Linked DNA regions of Homo sapiens. The protein of the gene in region 1 purifies or fractionates together with the protein of each later gene. This does not show direct contact. Each region holds a gene or a part of one and is shown in the gene's direction. Other genes may lie near its edges. The genes, in order: ZCCHC7 and HDLBP.

Evidence for each region.
Region 2: the proteins of ZCCHC7 (region 1) and HDLBP purify together in Homo sapiens (affinity purification with mass spectrometry, with the first as the bait; one large-scale study listed by BioGRID). This does not show direct contact.

Annotation. Positions count from the first base shown.
Region 1 is NC_000009.12:37,298,452-37,302,267, forward strand, and holds part of ZCCHC7 (zinc finger CCHC domain-containing protein 7), read left to right. Parts: intron 1-3,736; coding exon 3,737-3,780; intron 3,781-3,816.
Region 2 is NC_000002.12:241,231,991-241,235,806, reverse strand, and holds part of HDLBP (vigilin), read left to right. Parts: intron 1-212; coding exon 213-317; intron 318-551; coding exon 552-686; intron 687-1,843; coding exon 1,844-1,987; intron 1,988-3,816. UniProt on the Homo sapiens protein: Appears to play a role in cell sterol metabolism. It may function to protect cells from over-accumulation of cholesterol.

The DNA of each region.
Region 1 (3,816 bases):
AAAATGAACAAATTGCTAATACCCAACAACAGGGATGAATCTTAAAAATATTCAGGAGGAAATGAGACAGACACAAAATAGTACATAACGTATAATTCCATATATGTGAGGTCCTGGAAGGGGCAAAACAAATCTATCGTGAGAGAAGGCAAATCAGTGGTTGCCTCAGGTGGGGGATTGACTGCACATGTGCACAAAGTAACATTTTGGGATGATGGAAATGTTCTACATTTGATTTTTATAGTGATTACCCAGGTGTATACATTTGCCAAATTGAATCCTACTGTATTTTTACATAGGTACATTTTATTACATGTAAGTTACACCTCATTAGTTTCCTTTACGGCCCTGCCTTCTGTAACTTTTTTCCTTCTCTCCCTAAAATTGAGGTATTATCCATTCTTCTGAATTTACCATAGCATTTGTTTGGCCTTCTCTTACTCTTTCTTTCTCCTTTCGTTTGTCACCTTGTCCTCTACTAAGGCTATAAGCTCTTTACATCTTTCTTTACCCTCTAGCACCTTGCTCATTTAATCTTCCAATAGATGTTTGTTAAACGGAGTTGATTTCATACAAAGAAAGAATTACCAGCTACTGCTTTGATCACGGCTCTGAAATTTGAACAGAATCACAATCCCAGTTATCAGCAAGAACAACCCTATAAAAGCAGCTATGGGTTGATGACAGGCATTCTTAGGGCAGTCTTAATTTTACAATTCAGGGCAGTCCCATTTAACATTCTATGGCATTGGGTGGTGGACACATGGAAGATGAGTGTTCCTGGGCCGTATGGAAAGTCCTCTTTAAGGCGAATTACCTTGTGCTAGTTGCAAAGGTCTGGAAGATTTAATTCAGGTAAATTACACAACGTGACAATGTATATAATTCCAGTAATGAGAGAAAATTAGAATCAGAAATTCAGTACTAGAAGGTGCCACCATGGATGCCATTTATTCTAACCCATTGTCATACAGACCCAGAGATCTTAAGTATCCTGCCCAACACCACACAGCAAATTAGCGGCACAGTTAACTCTAGAAGCCAGATTTCTATCAAGTACCATACCCAGAATTTAACAAGTTGGAGAATTTGCTGTTTGTGGAAGTTCTGAGGAGTTGCCCTAGACAAAGCTTTCCTTGGGGTGAGATTTTGAGTTTAGACACAATAGGTAAAGATCAAGGGCAGGAAGCTGCTGTCATTACTAGGTTCAAATCAAAACTGGAACCTTGGAGCCATGGCAGGGACAAGAATTGCCTTATGTGTTCCTGGTGATGTCTTTGCTTCATATACCACTTGAGAAATACTGACTTGATCTATTGTTGAAACTTAGTTTGTATACTTGTTGATGAATTTTCTATAGTAAGAATATGAATATGCTATAACTTTTTGAGGAGTTGTTAGTACAGTTGACCCTTAAACAACACGGGTTCGAACTTCATAGGTCTGCCTATAAGCAGCTTTTTCTCAACCAAAAATGGATTGAAAATACAGTTTTCATAGGCTGTGAAACCCACGTATATAGAGGGCCAACTTTTTATATGTGCAGGTTCCACAGGGCTGACGGGAACTTGAGTGTGCAAGGATTTGGTTCTACCAGGGTAGTCTTGGAACCAATCCCTCATATATACTGAGGGACAACTGTACACAAGAATATTTTTGAATCCCACAGGATTGTTAAAACAATCTGAATAGAGTCGATCTCCCTCCTTCAAACCTTCCTTTTTTACTGTTTTCTGTTTATGTGTAAATTTGGAGAGTGGTAACAGTTGCCATTTTGCATTTCATTGGTTTTATATTTCATTTTTTAAGAACAATTTTAAGTCAGTCTTATAGTTAACATAATTTCAAGTGGTCATTTTGAATTTTAATGATGAAAGACATTGAGATACAAAAAGCAGCTTTGAAAGTTGTAGCAAAGCATGCTTCATACATGGATCCTTTGAATGAAAGAATAATAGCATGGATGGTTGATGAAGGAATAGAAGCTGCTGCTATTTAATGTATTCTTCACTCTCAGTACATGGATACAGCCTCCAAATGTTACAAAGAAAATAATCATCAGCACAGCATCTCTGCATACCTGTGGATTGGTCTTTTTGTAAAGCAGCCTCATGGTTTTCTTAGAAAAGTTTTTTATTTAAAAATATATCTCTAGACACTTACTCCTGGTAGGCCTGGGAAAATGTAGATTACTTCATGTCTCTTCAAAAGCCTTTCAAAGAAACAAGTCAAGCTTGATTTGTGTTTTTGAGATAGAGGAAAGTAGTAAGGTAGGAGGACAGAGGAAATCTTAGCTTTAAAGGGAGAAAAAGATCTTTCAGTCCTTTTGTCAACACTTTAGTTTCTGCATTAGTCATAGGTCCCTTCCCCCTTGGCCATGGGTGGACCAAAGGAATAGCAGCCATTTGCACGTTTGTGAAAGGACAGTGGAAAGAAAAGAAAATAGCTGATACAAGAAAATGTGGGAGATTATTTCCCCCACTAGGTTTTTACAGTTGTATTTTTAGATTAATCAGTGGTTTCTGGATATTTGGCCTCCTTTTTTTTCTTTTATTTTGCTGTTTTTGATGTTATAAAATACAGTGCTAAGAACCTAACCCTATTAGTGAGATATTATTCAGAGTCTAATTTTTTTATTGTTATAATGAAAGTCATGTAGAATGCAAAGCTAGTGGACACAGTTAATACTCATATTTGGTAGAAATACTTTTCCTCTACCAAGCTGAGTTCAAATTGTGGGCCTGCAAGTTAACTGATACTGGACAGGTTAACTGGAGAAAAGATAAGGTTTATTCACACTTGAAGGAGCACTCAATATCAGTAACTCTGAAGAAGAGTTTAGAGGGTTATAGAAGTAAGGGGTTATGCCTCTTGCTGTGGCACACCACAGATGCCAGCACTTTGGGAGGCTGAAGTGGGTGGATCTCTTGAGCTCAGGAGTTTGAGACCAGCCTGGGTGACATGGTGAAACCCTGTCTCTACCAAAAAAATTATAAAAATTAGCCTAGCGTGGTGGCAAGTTCCTGTAGTCCCAGCTACTCAGGAGGCTGATGTGGGAGGATTGCTTAAGCCTGGGAGGCGGAGGTTGCAGTGAGCCAAAATGGTACCACTGTACTCCAGTCTTGGCAACAGAGCAAGACCCTGTCTCCAAAAAAAACAAGAAGTAAGGGGCTATATACCAACTTAACAAGAGGGGGTAGCTTAGGGAGTCAAAGGACAGAAAGATCTCATTTACACAATTTTTTTGTTATGTCTCAGTGCCCAGTGTCAGTCATCTCCCTCCTGTGGATCCTCCTGGAGGTGTGAGAGGGTTGTGACAGCTGCCTCAGTAAAGCTCTGCTTTAGTCAGATAAAAGAAGTTAAGATTTCATTCTGCATCTGCTGTTGTATTTTTGGGCCCTTCACTGATTTTTTTTTGTTTTAATATTTGTATGTAGTCTGATGCTTTTCAATGTATTTTCACATACCTCATTTTATTCTCACAGGACTTTTTAGGCAGACAGGGAAAATACTATTATCCCATTTCACAGGTCAGAAAACTGAGACTCAGAGAGGTTAAGTATTTGTCCAGGGCCACATAATTAATAACAGAGCCAAAATAGGAATTTCAGGTATTCAACATTTCTCAGTGTACCTTTGGGGTCCAATTTGAGTACTCATAAATTGTGTAATCTATTGTCAATCTATAAGTCCTTTAAAAGTGCCACGGTTAAGTAATAATTTATTTGTTTTGTAGGAGAAGATGGTATAAACTGGTCCATCAGTGACAAAGACATTGAGGTAAAATCAAATTGTTTTTAAAATTCAGAATAATAA
Region 2 (3,816 bases), on another chromosome or scaffold:
GTCTGGAATTTCTGTCTGCCAGCATTAGCCTAATGCAAATCTTTTCCTATTCTTTTCTATTGAGTTAAAGGTCCTGGTGGCATTGTCGGGTGGGGCACATTGCTGTTGTCATAGGGCTGTTTGCCTTGTGTTTCGTGGAGCCCCATTGCTGAGCTTACAACGTCACTCTGCTCTCAGCTCCCACGGCCTAACCATGACCATCCTCCCTGCAGGCATTGGTTCCTGTCACCATTGAAGTAGAGGTGCCCTTTGACCTTCACCGTTACGTTATTGGGCAGAAAGGAAGTGGGATCCGCAAGATGATGGATGAGTTTGAGGTAGACCCCTTTCCCGGGAGGCCATGTCACAGGAGTGGCCTGTCGCATCCTCTCCCGAGTGCCAGTGTCCTTTCTCAACTTCCTGTTGACTCTGCCTCCTCCTGCTCGGACTGGGCACTGACTTCCCTTCACGGCGGGTGGCCTTCCCTCTCACCACTTCTGGGTCCCAGGGCCAATGGACTCTTTCCTGTTCTCTGGGGTCCTGAACGTCAAGTCAGCCCCCTCTTCACGTAGGTGAACATACATGTCCCGGCACCTGAGCTGCAGTCTGACATCATCGCCATCACGGGCCTCGCTGCAAATTTGGACCGGGCCAAGGCTGGACTGCTGGAGCGTGTGAAGGAGCTACAGGCCGAGCAGGAGGACCGGGTGAGCAGGAGGTGGCCGGGGCACTGCCCAGAGCCATGGTGCTCAGCTTTGGGCACATGTCAGAATCTAGGGAAGTTCTTCAGGATCCCAGCATCCCAGCGACATCTGGCTGGAGGTGAGATGCAGGCAGTGCCAGGACGCAGTCAGCATCCAGGGGTCTTGCTGTGGAACTAGCCAAGAGCATGGCACCTTTCTCTTTTTCATAAAAAAGTGACAAAGTTGGACTTCCGTGTAAATTTGCAGTTTCTCTCAAAACCAAATCAGAGTGGTACCTCAGACCTACAAGAAAGGTCAAGGTTGCGAGAGGCCCCCAAGCATGTGCTATGCAGTGAGGACGAGCATCGGGGACCCCCACTAACCTCTAGCACAGGGTGGTCAAAGGGCGAATGACTTCCTGGTAAGCAGGGATGAAACCCCCCCAACCTCTGGCAAGGCTGACGTTTGAAGGATTGTATGAGCGGAGCGCTGCAGACGCCCAGCCTCTGGCAGGGCTGACATTTGGAGGATTGTGTGAGCAGAGTGCTGCAGACAGGAGCAGGGGTTCTGGAACTTGGAGCAGACTGTGCTGGGGTGCTGGTTTGCTAAGGGGGTTGGCTTTCCACTCCTCCCGTGAGCACGTCGAGTCTGGTGAATGGGGTGGAGCTCGTGAACCTCACATGGTGTCAGTGTACCCCTGCGTGGACTCTGGGTTGTCTCCTGCAGCCAGGTCATACCTGTAGCCTTTGGCCATGGGTGTTCAGGGGCTGTGGCTGCCCCCTCTTCTTGGTCTGCATCTGCCCCAGTCCTAAAAAGATCCAGAGCATTTCTGTGCGTATCCATCAGATCCCTGTTTGACAAATGAGGAGAGCGGGGCCCCAAGCTCGTGACTCACTGCCTAGCTCTGTCAGTTCCTGAGCACGATCCTCGCAAGTGGTCCCAAGCCCTCTTTTGAAGGATTTATAGACCTCCTTGTGGAGCAGCCAAGTTCCCTGGTTCTCATTATTAGCAGATAATGGAAGGTGGCAGAGGTCGGACCAGAGAGATGGCGGACCATTCCGGACCACGGGTTACAGAACACTGCAGCATCTCCAGTGTCCTATGACCAGGGTGGAAGGGGAATGGAGTCACAGGGTGGATCAGCTCAATCTTTGCCTCATTCTTGCTCCTTTCATTTGTAGGCTTTAAGGAGTTTTAAGCTGAGTGTCACTGTAGACCCCAAATACCATCCCAAGATTATCGGGAGAAAGGGGGCAGTAATTACCCAAATCCGGTTGGAGCATGACGTGAACATCCAGTTTCCTGATAAGGACGATGGGAACCAGGTGAGAGCCTCGGTTGGAGCGTGTCGGGGGCAGAGGTGCTTGTTGACCTTTCCTGTGACTTGGGAGCAGTAACCAGATGTGCCTAGATGGGGGTTCGAGGGCCAAGTTGAGAGTGGCAAGTCTCTCAGGACCTAATTCTGGCTTGAGGTTTGGGCTGTGTCTCGGTACTTGCCAGATGGGTGAGGTCTCTGGCACTATGTATCATCTGGGGCCTGGAGCATTTTCTCCTGCGTCTCCTTCCAGAAAATGAGCAGGAGCTCCAGCTGGGTCCTTGATCAGTGGCGCCTCCAGGTGTAGCTCATTCACCTGTCACCCGGGCCTCTCTGAGGCTCCCAAGGGCTCTCATTCACCTGTCACCTGGGCCTCTTGGGGTCAGGTGGACATTTCTCTGCAGCCCCAGCTGCAAACACCGTTGTGCTTGCCAGATGGTCCTTAGTAAACTCTTGTTGTTACTTCCTCCAAATTGCAGTGCCACCCCCCTGCCACTGGCCCTCATGGCCTCCTGCTTCACTCAGAACAAAATGAAAGGCAGCCCCATCCCCTCTCTGGGCCCTGCCACCTGGCATGCAGGGCAGCCTCACCCAACACCCCCTCTTGCACACACTTCCCAGGCTTGGTCTTTCCTGGCTCTGGCATCCTGCTGGGGTGTCTGCTTCCTAGGCGTGTCCAGCACAGCTTTGCCCACAGTGGGAGACTAGCAAGCCTTGGTGGCCACAGTTGTGCTGGTTTCCAGAAACAGCAAACCCCCTGGCAGCAGAGCCCCTCCACGCCCCTCGCTCCCACTGTGGATGTGCCGCCCAGGGTTTTCCGCTGCTTCCCCTTCCCCTTCCCCTTCTTCCTCCCCAGCTTCTTGTTCCCTTTTGGATCTTTGAGTCACACACACACCAGCCAGGCCAGGAGGGCCCTCCTGCACCCTGCCTCCTCCAGCTCCCACGTCCTCTTCCCTCCCCACATACATTTTTTAATTTTTAGTCTTGATCTTGAGAGTTTAGTTCTTTTTTTTGAGAGAGATAGTCTTTGTCTTGTTGCCCCAGGTGGAGTGCAGTGGCGCGATCTCGGCTCACTGTAACCTCTGCCTCCCGGGTTGAAGTGATTCTCGTGCCTCAACCTCCCAAGTAGCTGGGACTACAGCTGTGAGCCACCGCTCCCAGCCCAAGAGTTTAGCTCTTTTAAGCCCCTCACCCTTATTGCCTTTTATTTCCCTCTACTATTCTATATAATTATCAATCTTAAAAGTCATTATAGGTGAGTCACAGTGGCTCACGCCTGTAATCCCAACACTTTTGGAGGCCGAGGCGGGTGGATCCCCTGAGGTCAGGAGTTCAAGGCCAACCTGACCAACATGGCGAAAGCCTGTCTCTACTAAAAATATGAAAATTAGCCAGGCGTGGTCGCGTGCACCTGTAATCCCAGCTACTCGGGAGACTGAGACGTGAGAATCGCTTGAACGCAGGAGGCGGAGGCTGCAGTGAGCTGAGATCATGCCATTGCACTCCAGCCTGGGCGACAGAGTGAGACTCTGTCTTTAAAAAAAAAAAAAAAAAGTCATTGTTTAGCAATTAGACTATTCCATCTAATACACCATGAGCCAAGTGGGGTGGAGCAGTCATTTCTTCACAGGCAGCTTTTTCCTGTGAGCTGTGCTTCCGATCTTGAGGTTCTGTACCTGGCAGCACGCGGGTGGTGCCTGAGGCTGTCAGCTCTGCTGGGCCACGGTGGGTGGGGCTGCTGCCTCCCACTCTGGCATTTTGCTTCAATCTGGACAGAAGCTTCTTGGGCTGCTGCTCTGTTGTCTCTAGGTTAGGTCTTTCTGCTCATTTCCTTTCCAG